3 linked regions of the Homo sapiens genome follow. The protein of the gene in region 2 purifies or fractionates together with the protein of the main gene of each other region. This does not show direct contact. Each region holds a gene or a part of one and is shown on either strand. Other genes may lie near its edges.

Region 1 (4,211 bases), about 61 Mb from region 2:
CCAGAAGATAGTGGGGAGCAAATCTTTATTCATCCAGCCCCAAGGGAAGGAATTTGTCAGCCACACAGCCTGTAACCATGAAATAGACTGAGGCTAATTAATCCAGAGGGGGAAACAAGGACACGAACATGGCCTCATTAGCAAAGGGAACAAGAGAAAATGAAATGATCATCATCATATTCTTTAAAATGTCATACAAATAAAAGAGCTACTTATTAGCTCTCAACCTTATTAATATTAATATTTAATAAGTGGGTACTTAGTATTGATTAATCAATCAGATATTTGGGGGTAGGTATCTACTATATGTTGGGTACTACATAGAAAAGTTACTTATTCTTAACAATTTGGACATGTAAATATGGGTCTATTTAAATGTATGACCTGAATAGAACTAAGAAGATACTATGGCAAGTGTTAATTTATATCAGCAAACAGAGCTCTTTTGATCTTTTTTTTTCACCATTGGGTGACAAATTTCCTGGACATGCAGAAATTCTGGCTGCTTCAAGTGTTCTTGGCACACACTAGGTAAGTCGAACATTATCAGCCTGCCAGTGGCTGGAGCCGAGGCACTCGAGGTACTCACCCTGAATGGCTGGTCTGGAATGAATGGAAAGTAAGGGATTGCTGACTGTTCTTCACCCCTCTCCCCAGATATACAAGAATTTCTGAGTAGCTGCCGATCTGTGAACACAGCTTTGAGTTCGATTGCCACATCGGCAGGAGGGTCTTCTGAGTCCCCACAGGTCAAGCTGATTGCAAAGCTGAAAAGAAAATCATCCCACTGATTAAGGGTTGGATATAAAAACATTTCAAAATGACCCAAGTGCTTATATTTCTTCTTCCTCCTCTGGGTTTGTCCATTTTTAAGAGGCCACTACTCTTCAAGAGAGGTTAGATTATGGAGAAGTAAGTCAAACCAGCTTATTTTGTTACCTAAAGCAAGCTCTGGTGAAAACTTTGGTGTTGAAAATGACTAAAATTAGAGAATTCCACTTCGGAATTCTCAAAAACAGCCACAGAAATTGACCAGGGGAAATAATGTTAAGTTGGGTTCTTATTCATCTTGATAGTTCTTGCTCCTGGCACCATGTTTCAAAACCATTAAAAAAAAAAAAAAAAATCCTCTGGCCTCCCTAAGGGTCAAAGAGAAAATGTGGGCCTATATTTATAATCTCTGATATAAATAGCTGTCTGGAGAAATGATGGCTGGGATTCATACATATTCGTTTCATGGGAACATGGTACTTTCTTGGCACTGGCAACTAGCAACACTGTCCACAAGGAGAGGAAGAGGAGTGCTAAACCACAACAGAAGTGGGCAGGGCTCAGCCACAGCCTGATAGTTCTGTCCTGACAAAGACTCTGCCTTACCTCTCTGGGTTGAGGTCTACGATGCCCATCACTAACACCTTCTTGCCTGGTCTCATGCCACCTTTAATGTGCCCACAAAATGGAACTATCTGAAAAGGGTGGGAGAAGAAAAATGAATTTTACAGCCTGTTAGGGAAAAGCCAAGACCTCAGACCCTGAAGGCCTGACCCACTGGAAAATGCAATAAACAAATGAATAAAATTTTAAAAAGCAATGAGAAAGGAGGAAGGTACAGGCAGAGACACAGAGCAAAATCATTTACCAGTCGTGGGAAGTACACGTCCGCTTGAACTGGAGAGCTCAAAGAGTTGTTTAAATGGCCATCATCTAGTTTCTAAAAATAGAAGTACACAGATTGGCTTTCCATGGGCTCTTTTTTGGGGGGCTGGAGGAAGAACCCACACAGATGTGGTGGAATCCAGCAGCCTTCCACATGCACACAGTGTCTGCAGATGATGCCTCTTCACCGTCTCTTAGATAATCTCATCACCCCCGAACAAAACCCATCCTTTCCACCCGGTAGTTAAGCCTCTGAAGATCCGCAGACCCTTCAGATCCAGATCAAAATCAAGGTCGAGGTCCACCGAAGAGCCAGAGCCCCACGCCGGAGGAGGGCAGGCCCCTCTCCAACCGTAAACGCTTCTGGAAGCGCGGTGGGCCAGGCCTGTCCTTCGGGACGTGACTGAAGTGCAGCGGCCGTGCTCAACTTCTCTCGGGAGCCCCGGGCGCCGACCCATTTCCAAGGGGGAATCCCCGGTACGTCGGGGGCGGTGGCGGGGCGCGCGCCCCGGACACACTCACCCACGCGCACACCTGGCTGGCGGTTGCACGGCACAGAGGGGGCTGTCGGGCGTCCCTACCCGCCATCCTCCCCAAACTCCCTCCCCAGCCCAGAGCCCCGCAGCCCGGGAGCCTCTCCAGCCCCTAACACCGGCCGCGCGCAGCCAGCGGCTGCTAACAGGTACCGGGCGCCTTCCCACGCGCCGGGCGCCGGCCGGGCCTGCGGCTGCTCAGCACCCCAGCACTGCTGGAGCAGGCGGCGGCGGAGTGCGGGACGGCGGGGAGGGGCGCCTCGCGCGCGCCCTGCCACACTCACCACCACGGCATCGCTGTCGGCCACTGATCCCGCCATCTTCTTGCCCGGCGCGGCGGGGTACGTGGGACGCGGCGCGCGGGCGGGGATCCCGGGGCTGTCCTGCGCGGGGCGGGGGCGGGGGCGCGGGTCCGAGCTGGCGGCGGGCGCGCGCACACACGAGGGGGCGCGCGCGCGCGCGCCCGGGGCCCGGCGCCGACCTGGCAGGCAGAGCCTGGGAGGAGGGGAGGGGAGGGAGGCAGCGCGAGCTGGGAGGGCGAAGGTGCTTGCCGCGGCCCAGAACGGCCCCGGACCCGGGCCGACGGGGCTGCTTGCTGCCGCTGCCGCTGCCGCTGCCCGACCAAGAAAAGTGGCGAGGGCCGTGCCGCGTCGGCCCTGGGCAGCATTTAAAGGCCTCCGGGGCCCGGCTCGGGAACCGGGAACAGGGCGGGGACCCGGCGGGGCTGCCGCGGCTTGCTCAGCGGGCCCTGCCCCTCGGCCATTGGACGGTGGCGGAGGCCGGGGCGGGAGGGACGGGCCTGTCCGGGTCCGGGAGGGCGGGGGCCCTGTCGGCTCTCACCGGCCAGAGGGTGGGCAGGGCCGGGGCTGGAGAAGTGAGGGCCCGAGCCGGTCAGGTGACAGGTGCTCGTGCCACCCGCGCCCCTCCCTCCAGCCTCCTTCCTCCTGCCACGTCCTGGGCGCTGGTGGGGCGATGGGAGGCGAGGTCGAGGGAAGATTGGGTGCTGGGGGTGGTATTCCAGAGTGGGAGACTTGGCAGGATTTCTTTCAGAGAATTCCAACAAAATCGGGGGAAGGATTCATTCTGCTCTCTAGGGCAGAAAGAGAATGGAAGGTCTGAAGGCTTGCAGAAATAAATGTGTGACCTGAAAGAACGAAGCAGAGAGGACTCAAGGTAGGGACCTTTCTATCCCAGGAGGCTAGATACAGAAAGGTCGCTCTTCCCTGTGGAAGGACAGGCAGGTCTAGGGGTCCCTGGACTCTCTCGAGCAGGAGTCAAAGCCTTACCAAATCAAAGTGGGCGCAGTCACTGTCCTCAGAGAGCCTCCATTGAGCCCTGTTTTTAACAAGTCACTTGCCCAGTCTGGGGTAGTCAGCTTCTCACTGAAAATCTCCTCATACCCTTTGTGGAGTACTTCCCAGGGGATACACACCTCTTTTATTCAAGCCAGAAATTCCTTTATGGCATTTCCACACTAGGACGATTATGTAACTTCTCAGATAAAGCTGTATCAACATATCCTCTATTAGGTGACATCCTTGGCTGAAACATTCCATTGCATGAATCACCGGGGCGTTCTATGCTAATAAGCAGGGAGCATGTGTGACCTACTGCAGTCCCAGAGGGCCCCTCAGAGGCTCCTTTTTTTTTTTTTTTTTTTTTTTTTAAATTGAGACGGAGTCTCCCTCTGTGGCCCAGGCTGGAGTGCAGTGGCGCGATCTCAGCTCACTGCAACCTTCGCCGCCCGGGGAGGCTTCTTTCTTCTAGTCACTGCAATTGGCTGTGTGGCCTAGAACATCAATGTGGCTTTTGTGTCTTAGTTTTCCCTTTATGGACCAGAGCTAATGATGGTAATCTCAGTTGAGCAGGGAGAATTACCTGCACACGCCTGTAAGCCTCACTCATATCCTCTGGAAGTGGTTCTTGAACTAGATAGAGGCTAAAGCGCAGTACGCTTGTGGCTGCAGCACACTTTGTTTACCAGTCTTAGCTCAAAATCACACTTTATTACTTTAAAATGTT
Region 2 (3,651 bases):
ATGGAGTCAAAGGGTATTATTTTGGAGCTTTAAGATTTAGTGGCTGCCCTGCTGAGTTTTGAACTTTCATGGGTCCTGTAGCTCCTTTCTTTTGACCAATTTCCCCCTTTTGGAATGAGAATATTTACCTAATGCCTTTACCCGCTTTGTATCTTGGGAGTAACTAACTTGTTTTGATTTTGCAGGCTCATAGGTAAAAGGAGATGAGTATCAGATGAGACTTTGGACTTGAACTTGGGACTTTTAAGTTAATGCTAGAGGAAGTTAAGACTTTGGGGGACTATTGGGAAGAGATTATTGTATTTTGAAATTCAAGAAGGGCATGAGATTTGGGAGGGGCCGGGGCAGAATAATACAGTTTAGATTTGTGTCTCCACCCAAATTTCATATTGAAATGTAATCCCCAGTATTGAAAGTGGGACCTGGTGGGAGGTGACTGGATCATGAGGGTGGATTTCTCATGAATAGCTTAGCACTATCTTCTTGGTGCTATCCTCACTACAGTGAGTAACTTCTTGTGAGATCTGGTCATTTAAAACAGTGTGGCACCTTGCTCTCTCTTTCATTCCCACTCCTGTTATGTGAGAAGCCTGCTCCCTCTTTGCCTTCTGCCATGTAAGCTTCCTGAGGCCTCCCCAGAAGCAGATGGTGGTGACAGGAAGCACATGCTTCCTGTAGAGCCTGCAGAACTGTGGGCCAATTAAATCTCTTTTCTTATAAATTACACAGTTTCAGGTATTTATTTATAGCAAAGCAAGAATGGCCTCATACAGACATTAAAAGAAAAAAGAAAGAAAATATTGCGTCTATTAGTAGTGAATATAATGATACTTCTTTTCCAGGTAATCCAGGGCTCCCTTACCTTTTCTTCATAATTTGGTAGTTTATCTTTGCATATGGTTATGATGTCCATCCAGGAGTAGTTCCTCTCTCTTCGGATCTTTTCTAATTCTGGATCATTCTCATATTTGTCAGCATCCAGCTAAAAGAGTTAACCCACCAAAAACAAGAGCTCAGATTAACAAGGAGATGTAGAAACATTCTCTTTCTGGATCTCCAATATGATTTTATACTCCAAATTTATCATTTGTTATTTTTTCAACCCTCAACTAACTCTCTTCATCTCCTCTAGCCATTTAATGGATTTTCCATTCTCCAAAACACCAGCTATACATACAATGGAGTTCTGTTTGATTTCTGCCTCCCTTCTCTGCAACAGTCCATCCCAGGGGATTCTTTTTCCCATTTTGAGATGGTAGTCTCACCACCTCAGGCCTTTCTGTCCACTCCACAGGTCCCTCACTGTGCCCTGTTTCTCTGCCACCATCCCACTCATGAGTCTCATTGATCCTCAATGCCATCTCTTTGGTCAGTTTGTTTCCATGAGCCAAAACATTGTATGCTCTCACAGCTTGCAAATAAAACTCAAGTTAATTAAACTGGAATGAGAAACCTTCTATCATCTGGCCCCAGCTGACTTTTCTACTTCTATCTGTTCCCATCTCCTACTTTTTAAAGAACTCTACATTCTAAACCAAATAGGATGATCGGCTATCTTAAAAATATTTGATATTTCACATCCCCACAACCTTGCTCATGACAGCTTTCTATGCCTAAAATTCCCATTCAACATTTTCATTTATCACAATCCTATCTCTATTAAGGTTCAGTTTTACTGTTCCTTCCTGACGAAGCACTTCCCTGATGAAGCTCCAGGCAGAATTCATCTGAACTCTTATTTAAAACTACTGGCAGTGAATCTAGCACACTTTATGTTTTGCAATAAACTGCACATTATATCATCACTACTTACTGAACAACAAACTCCAGTGTTGCAGGAAGTCAGGGACCCCGAATGGAGGGACCGGCTGGAGCCATGGCAGAGGAACATAAGTTTTGAAGATTTCACGGACATCTATCAGTTCTCAAATAATACTTTTATAATTTATTATGCCTGTCTTTAATCTCTTAATCCTGTTATCTTCGTAAGCTGAGGATGTATGTCACCTCAGGACCACTGTGATAATTGTGTTAACTGTACAAATTGATTGTAAAACATGTGTGTTTGAACAATATGAAATCAGTACACCTTAAAAAATAAAATAACAGCGATTTTTAGGGAACAAGGGAAGACAACCATAAGGTTTGACTGCCTGCAGGGTCAGGCAAAAACACCCATATTTTTCTTCTTGCAGAGAGCCTATAAATGGGCGTGCAAGTAGAGAAGGTATCACTAAATTCTTTTCCTAGGAAGGAATATTAATATTAATACTCTGGGGAAGGAATGCATTTCTGGGGGGAGGTCTATAAACAGCTGCTCTGGGAATGTCTGTCTTATGCGGTTGAGATAAGGACTGAGATACGCCCTGGTCTTCTGCAGTACCCTCAGGCTTACTAAGGTGGGGAAAAACTCCACCCTGGTAAATTTGTGGTCAGACCAGTTCTCTGCTCTCGAACCCTGTTTTCTGTTATTTAAGATGTTTATCAAGACAATATGTGCAGCACTGAACATAGATCTTTATCAGTGGTTCTGCTTTTGCCCTTTGCCCTGTGATCTTTGTTGGACCCTTATCAGTGGTTCTGCTTTTGCCCTTTGTCCTGTTCCCTCAGAAGCATGTGATCTTTGTTAGACCCTTATTAGTAGTTCTGCTTTTTGCCCTTTGAAGCCTGTGATATTTGTACCTACTCCCTGTTCTTACACCCCCTCCCCTTTTGAAACCCTTAATAAAAACTTGCTGGTCTGAGACTCAGGCGGGCATCACGGTCCTACCGATATGTGATGTCACCCCTGGCGGCCCAGCTGTAAAATTCCTCTCTTTATACTGTCTCTCTTTATTTCTCAGCTGGCCGACACTTATGGAAAATGGAACCTATGTTGAAATATTGGGGGTGGGTTCCCCCGATACTCCAGAACATATTAAAGTACTAGTCATCAATACGTTATTTTCTACAAAGTTGACTCTAAAACTTAGCCTATCCACTGCATGATATGCACAGTACTATTTGCTATGGTCTGAATGTGTCCATATTATGACACATAATATGTAATATGACACATTATATGACACGTGTCATAAGTTTAAATATACGAATGTTGAAACTTAACACAAATGTGATAGTATTAAGGGGTGGGACCTTTAGGATGTGATTAAGTCATGAGGGCAAGCCCTCATTTATAGGATTAGTGGCCTTGTAAGAGAGATGGAGCTGGGCACTGTGGCTCACACCTATAATCCCAGAACTTTGGGAGGCCAAGGTGGGCAGATCACCTGAGGTCAGGGGTTCAAGACCAGCCTGTCCAACATGGTGAAACCCCATCTCTACTAAAAATACAAAAATTAGCCAGGCATGGTGGTCCACGCCTGTGATCCCAGCTACTCGGGAGGCTGAGGCAGGAGAATCACTTGAATCCAGGAGGCAGAGGTTGCAGTGAGCCAAGACTGCGCTACCAGCCTGGGTGACAGAGCGAGGCTCCATCTCAAAAAAAAAAAAAAAAAAAAAAAAGAGCAAGAGAGATGTAAGAGAGCAGTTTGCCCCTTCCACCACATGAGGACAGAGCAAGGAAATGGCCGTCTATGAGGACAGGATCCTCATCAGACACTAAATCTGCTGGCACCTTAATCTTGGACTTCTTAGCCTCTAGAACTATAA
Region 3 (3,440 bases), on a different chromosome or scaffold from region 2:
GAGACCAGCTTGGGCAACATAGCAAGACCCTGTCTATTTTTTTAAAAAAGTAAAAAATAGAAATTATCTCACTACTTAAATCCCATTTTTTTCACTTCATATGAAAGAACATATTGATAGTATATTCTATATTATTTCATAGATCTGTCTGAAAGAGATTGGGAACAAAAATATCTAATTGAGATATTCTTTAATTTTTTACATAGCAGCTTTATTTTTTTTATTCTGTAGTATCAGCGAAATCAGTCATGTTTATACCTTGAATATAAATATCAGGAATCATGCAATTATTTCTACTATGTATTTAGTAGTATCTTATATTTGTATAACATTATTACATTTTGCAAATTAGTATCACAACTGCTAAGTAGATGTTTCTGAGTATTAGAAAAATCAGTGTTATTACCTGCAGGATATTAAAAAACATTTGAAAAAGAGAAAAAGAAAAATCAGTGTTTAGAAATGTTGATAGTTATTGAATCTTTGAATTGAATTTTAAAAATCCATTCTAGTAATCAGAGTATACTTTTTTTATAGAACAAGGTGGCAGGTGGGGAGCCCTTTACCCTTCTGGTGAAGTTAAACCATAGAAGTTTACAATTTGCCTTTCACAAACATTAGCAGTCCGGGCATGGTGGCTGAAGCCTGTGATCCCAGCATGTTGGGAGGCCGAGTGGGAGGATTGCCTGAGCCTAGGAGTTTAAACCAGCCTGGGCACCATGGTGAGACCCCATCTCTATTATTTAAAATGTTTCTTAAATAAAAAAAACACAAACATTAGCAACTAGTTGGCTAGCCATAATTCCTCCCTTGTTTCGATTGCCAGTTAGAAGCAATTTTTATTTCACTGGTTATTTGCAAGAGAAGGGGTAAAAAAACAGCATCAGAGTGCAACACTGAAGTGAGCTTACTTTAATTTGTAAGTGAAGCTGTTGCTGAACATGACCACTATCGTTGCTGAAATATAAAATTATACTCACTGATTGTAATGGTTGAAATTTTCCTGAATAATCATTAGCCAAAGATCAACTCTCTAATGGTGCTAATGGCAATCTAGCTAATGTGCAAATTTAGGAAGTCTTCAGTACTAAGTACATAATTTTCAAATAATATTTTTTAATTGTCTACTTTGGATGTTAGCTATGTCTTGTGAGTATAAATTCCAATTTTAAGCACTATTTTGATGCAAAAAAATGAATAAAAAATTTAATTTATGATATGTTTGTAATATCTTACCTCCAGACAAAATAATATTAATAGTCTATCATTTAACAAATATGTATTGAACACCTACCCTTCTCTCTGGAGTGTACACTTCATGTGGGCAAGGGCCTTGTTCACGACTGTAGCACTAGTGCCTTTAACTGCTAGCAAAGTAGCCACTCGGATGATTATACCAAACACTTTACTAAAGCTGGGGATCTGTCTAGTGGGGAAGACAAACAATAAATATATAATATGTCAGGTGGTATTAAATGCTATGAAAAGAAAGGAGTAGATGGACTGTAAAGGAGGATGCTATTTTTTTGTGGCCATCCCGCACTGAGACAGGATGCATTCCACACTCAAAATTTGGTTCACATGTCCAGACTGATAGCCAAGTTCAGTGGCTCACGCCTGTAATCCTAGTACTTAGGGAGACCAAGGCAGGAGGATCACTTGAGGCCAGGAGTTCAAGGCCAGCCTGGGCAACAGAGAGAGACCCCCATCTCTGCAAAAAAAGAAAAAAAATTTTTTAATTATCTGGGCATGGTTGTGCACACCTGTTGTCCCAGCTGCTCAGGAGGCTGAGGCACGAGAATCACTTGAGCCCAGAAGTTGGAGGCTACAGTGAGCTATGATTGTTTCATTGCACTGTAGCCTGGGCAACACAGTGAGACCCTGTCTCAAAAAGAAAAAAAAAATGACTGATGAAGCCACACACACACCAACAGAGTATGAAAGGGTTGTTACTCACATAATGAAGCTTTCTGGGGAAAGCAGGGCAGCTCCTAAGCAGGATTTGACAACAGGGAAGGAGACTGACTTGGAGTTTTTTGGTGGTTAGGGAGTAGGGCCAGAGTGATGTTTCTTGCATGTGGTTTGAATTTCCCACTGGTATCAAAGAAGGAAACACCCAGGCTTGCTTGCTTTATTTTTTTAAAGAGATGGTGTCTCACTATGTTGCCCAGGCTGGGCTCAAGTCATCTTCCTGCCTCGGCCTCCCAAAGTGCTGGGATTACAGGCATGGGCCACCATGTCTGGCGAGCACCCAGGCTTTCTTAGCTTGCCAGAGGTGTAGGGCATAAGGGGACGAGGGGTGGGATAAGGCTTAAAAGCCACCAGCAGTCAAACATAAATTAAGTCAGATTCTTAATTACAGATTTCAGATCTGATTTCAGATCAGAGCTTATTTCAGGTCAGATTCCAGGTGTAGAGATCATCTGAAGCAGTCCTGGGCCTCTTCACACTACAGATACCAACACTGCCTTTACTCTTCCATTAGTGTCCTCCAAAATGGGGTGCATGGACAGCAGGTACACATGACCTTCCAAGGGGTGTGGGAATATTAGAACATCTATTTATATATTTTATTTCGTCCTTTTAAGTTTCTGTGGTTTTGTGTACATTTCTTACGTTAGGGATTTCAGTTCAAAATTGTATTGCTGATAGACACAATTCAAAAAGCTTGGAGACCAGGTACATTCACACCATCTAATAGAGATGGGGGAAAAGATCAAAATGCTTTTCTTTTTAAATTTTTTCTTAGTTTTCTTTCTTTATAGAGACAGAGTTTCGCCGTGTTGGCCAGGCTGTTCTCGAACTCCTGGCCTCAAGTGATCTGCCCGTCTCAGCCTCTCAAATTGCTGGGATTACAGGCATGAGGCACTGCACCTCACCCAAAGTGCTCTTCTTACTCTTACATTCACTCAGTATAACACAGAAAGCTTCTGTGACCAGATGCATGGGGGTTTTTCCCACACACCAAGCAATTCTCCAGCAGACATCAGCTGGGGGTCCTATAATTTAATTCAATTCTAACACTATTTACTTGGAGATAGCGTCAGATCCCACAGTTTAATGGTTCAATCCTCCAAGACTGCCTCCCACTTCCGATGCCAATCACAAGCTTCAGGTTGTGACCTGTACTTTTGACCAACCCACTGTAAATCGGGGTCTCTATGCCTACCTCTTCAGGTTTGATTAATTTGCTTAGAGCAGATCACTGAACCCAGGGAAACACTTTACTTATATTTTCCAGTTTATTAATAAAGGATATAATAAAGTATACAGATGAACAGCCAGATGGAAGAGATGCATATGGAAAGGCCAGCAGAAGTCCAGAGCTTCCACACCGTTTCTGGGTGCCCCACCTTCTAGGCATGTCCACCTGTTCAGCAATTTGGAAGCTATCCAAACCCTTTTCTTTTGGACTTTGGCTTTGTTTTTGTTTTTGAGAC

What was found.
Region 1: the proteins of ADI1 (region 2) and LGALSL purify together in Homo sapiens (affinity purification with mass spectrometry; one large-scale study listed by BioGRID and IntAct). This does not show direct contact.
Region 3: the proteins of ADI1 (region 2) and C11orf54 fractionate together in Homo sapiens (co-fractionation; one large-scale study listed by BioGRID). This does not show direct contact.

Annotation. Positions count from the first base shown.
Region 1 is NC_000002.12:64,452,844-64,457,054, reverse strand, and holds the start of LGALSL (galectin-related protein), read right to left. Parts: upstream 2,894-4,211; 5' UTR 2,510-2,893; coding exon 2,474-2,509; exon of another isoform or gene 2,177-2,473; intron 1,712-2,176; coding exon 1,640-1,711; intron 1,467-1,639; coding exon 1,378-1,466; intron 768-1,377; coding exon 590-767; intron 1-589. UniProt on the Homo sapiens protein: Does not bind lactose, and may not bind carbohydrates.
Region 2 is NC_000002.12:3,512,995-3,516,645, forward strand, and holds part of ADI1 (acireductone dioxygenase), read right to left. Parts: exon of another isoform or gene 1,916-3,651; coding exon of another isoform or gene 1,814-1,915; intron 983-1,813; coding exon 863-982; intron 1-862. UniProt on the Homo sapiens protein: Catalyzes 2 different reactions between oxygen and the acireductone 1,2-dihydroxy-3-keto-5-methylthiopentene (DHK-MTPene) depending upon the metal bound in the active site.
Region 3 is NC_000011.10:93,761,868-93,765,307, forward strand, and holds the end of C11orf54 (ester hydrolase C11orf54), read left to right. Parts: 3' UTR 1-2,882; downstream 2,883-3,440. UniProt on the Homo sapiens protein: Exhibits ester hydrolase activity on the substrate p-nitrophenyl acetate, in vitro. Regulates DNA damage and repair by regulating HIF1A degradation via chaperone-mediated autophagy (CMA).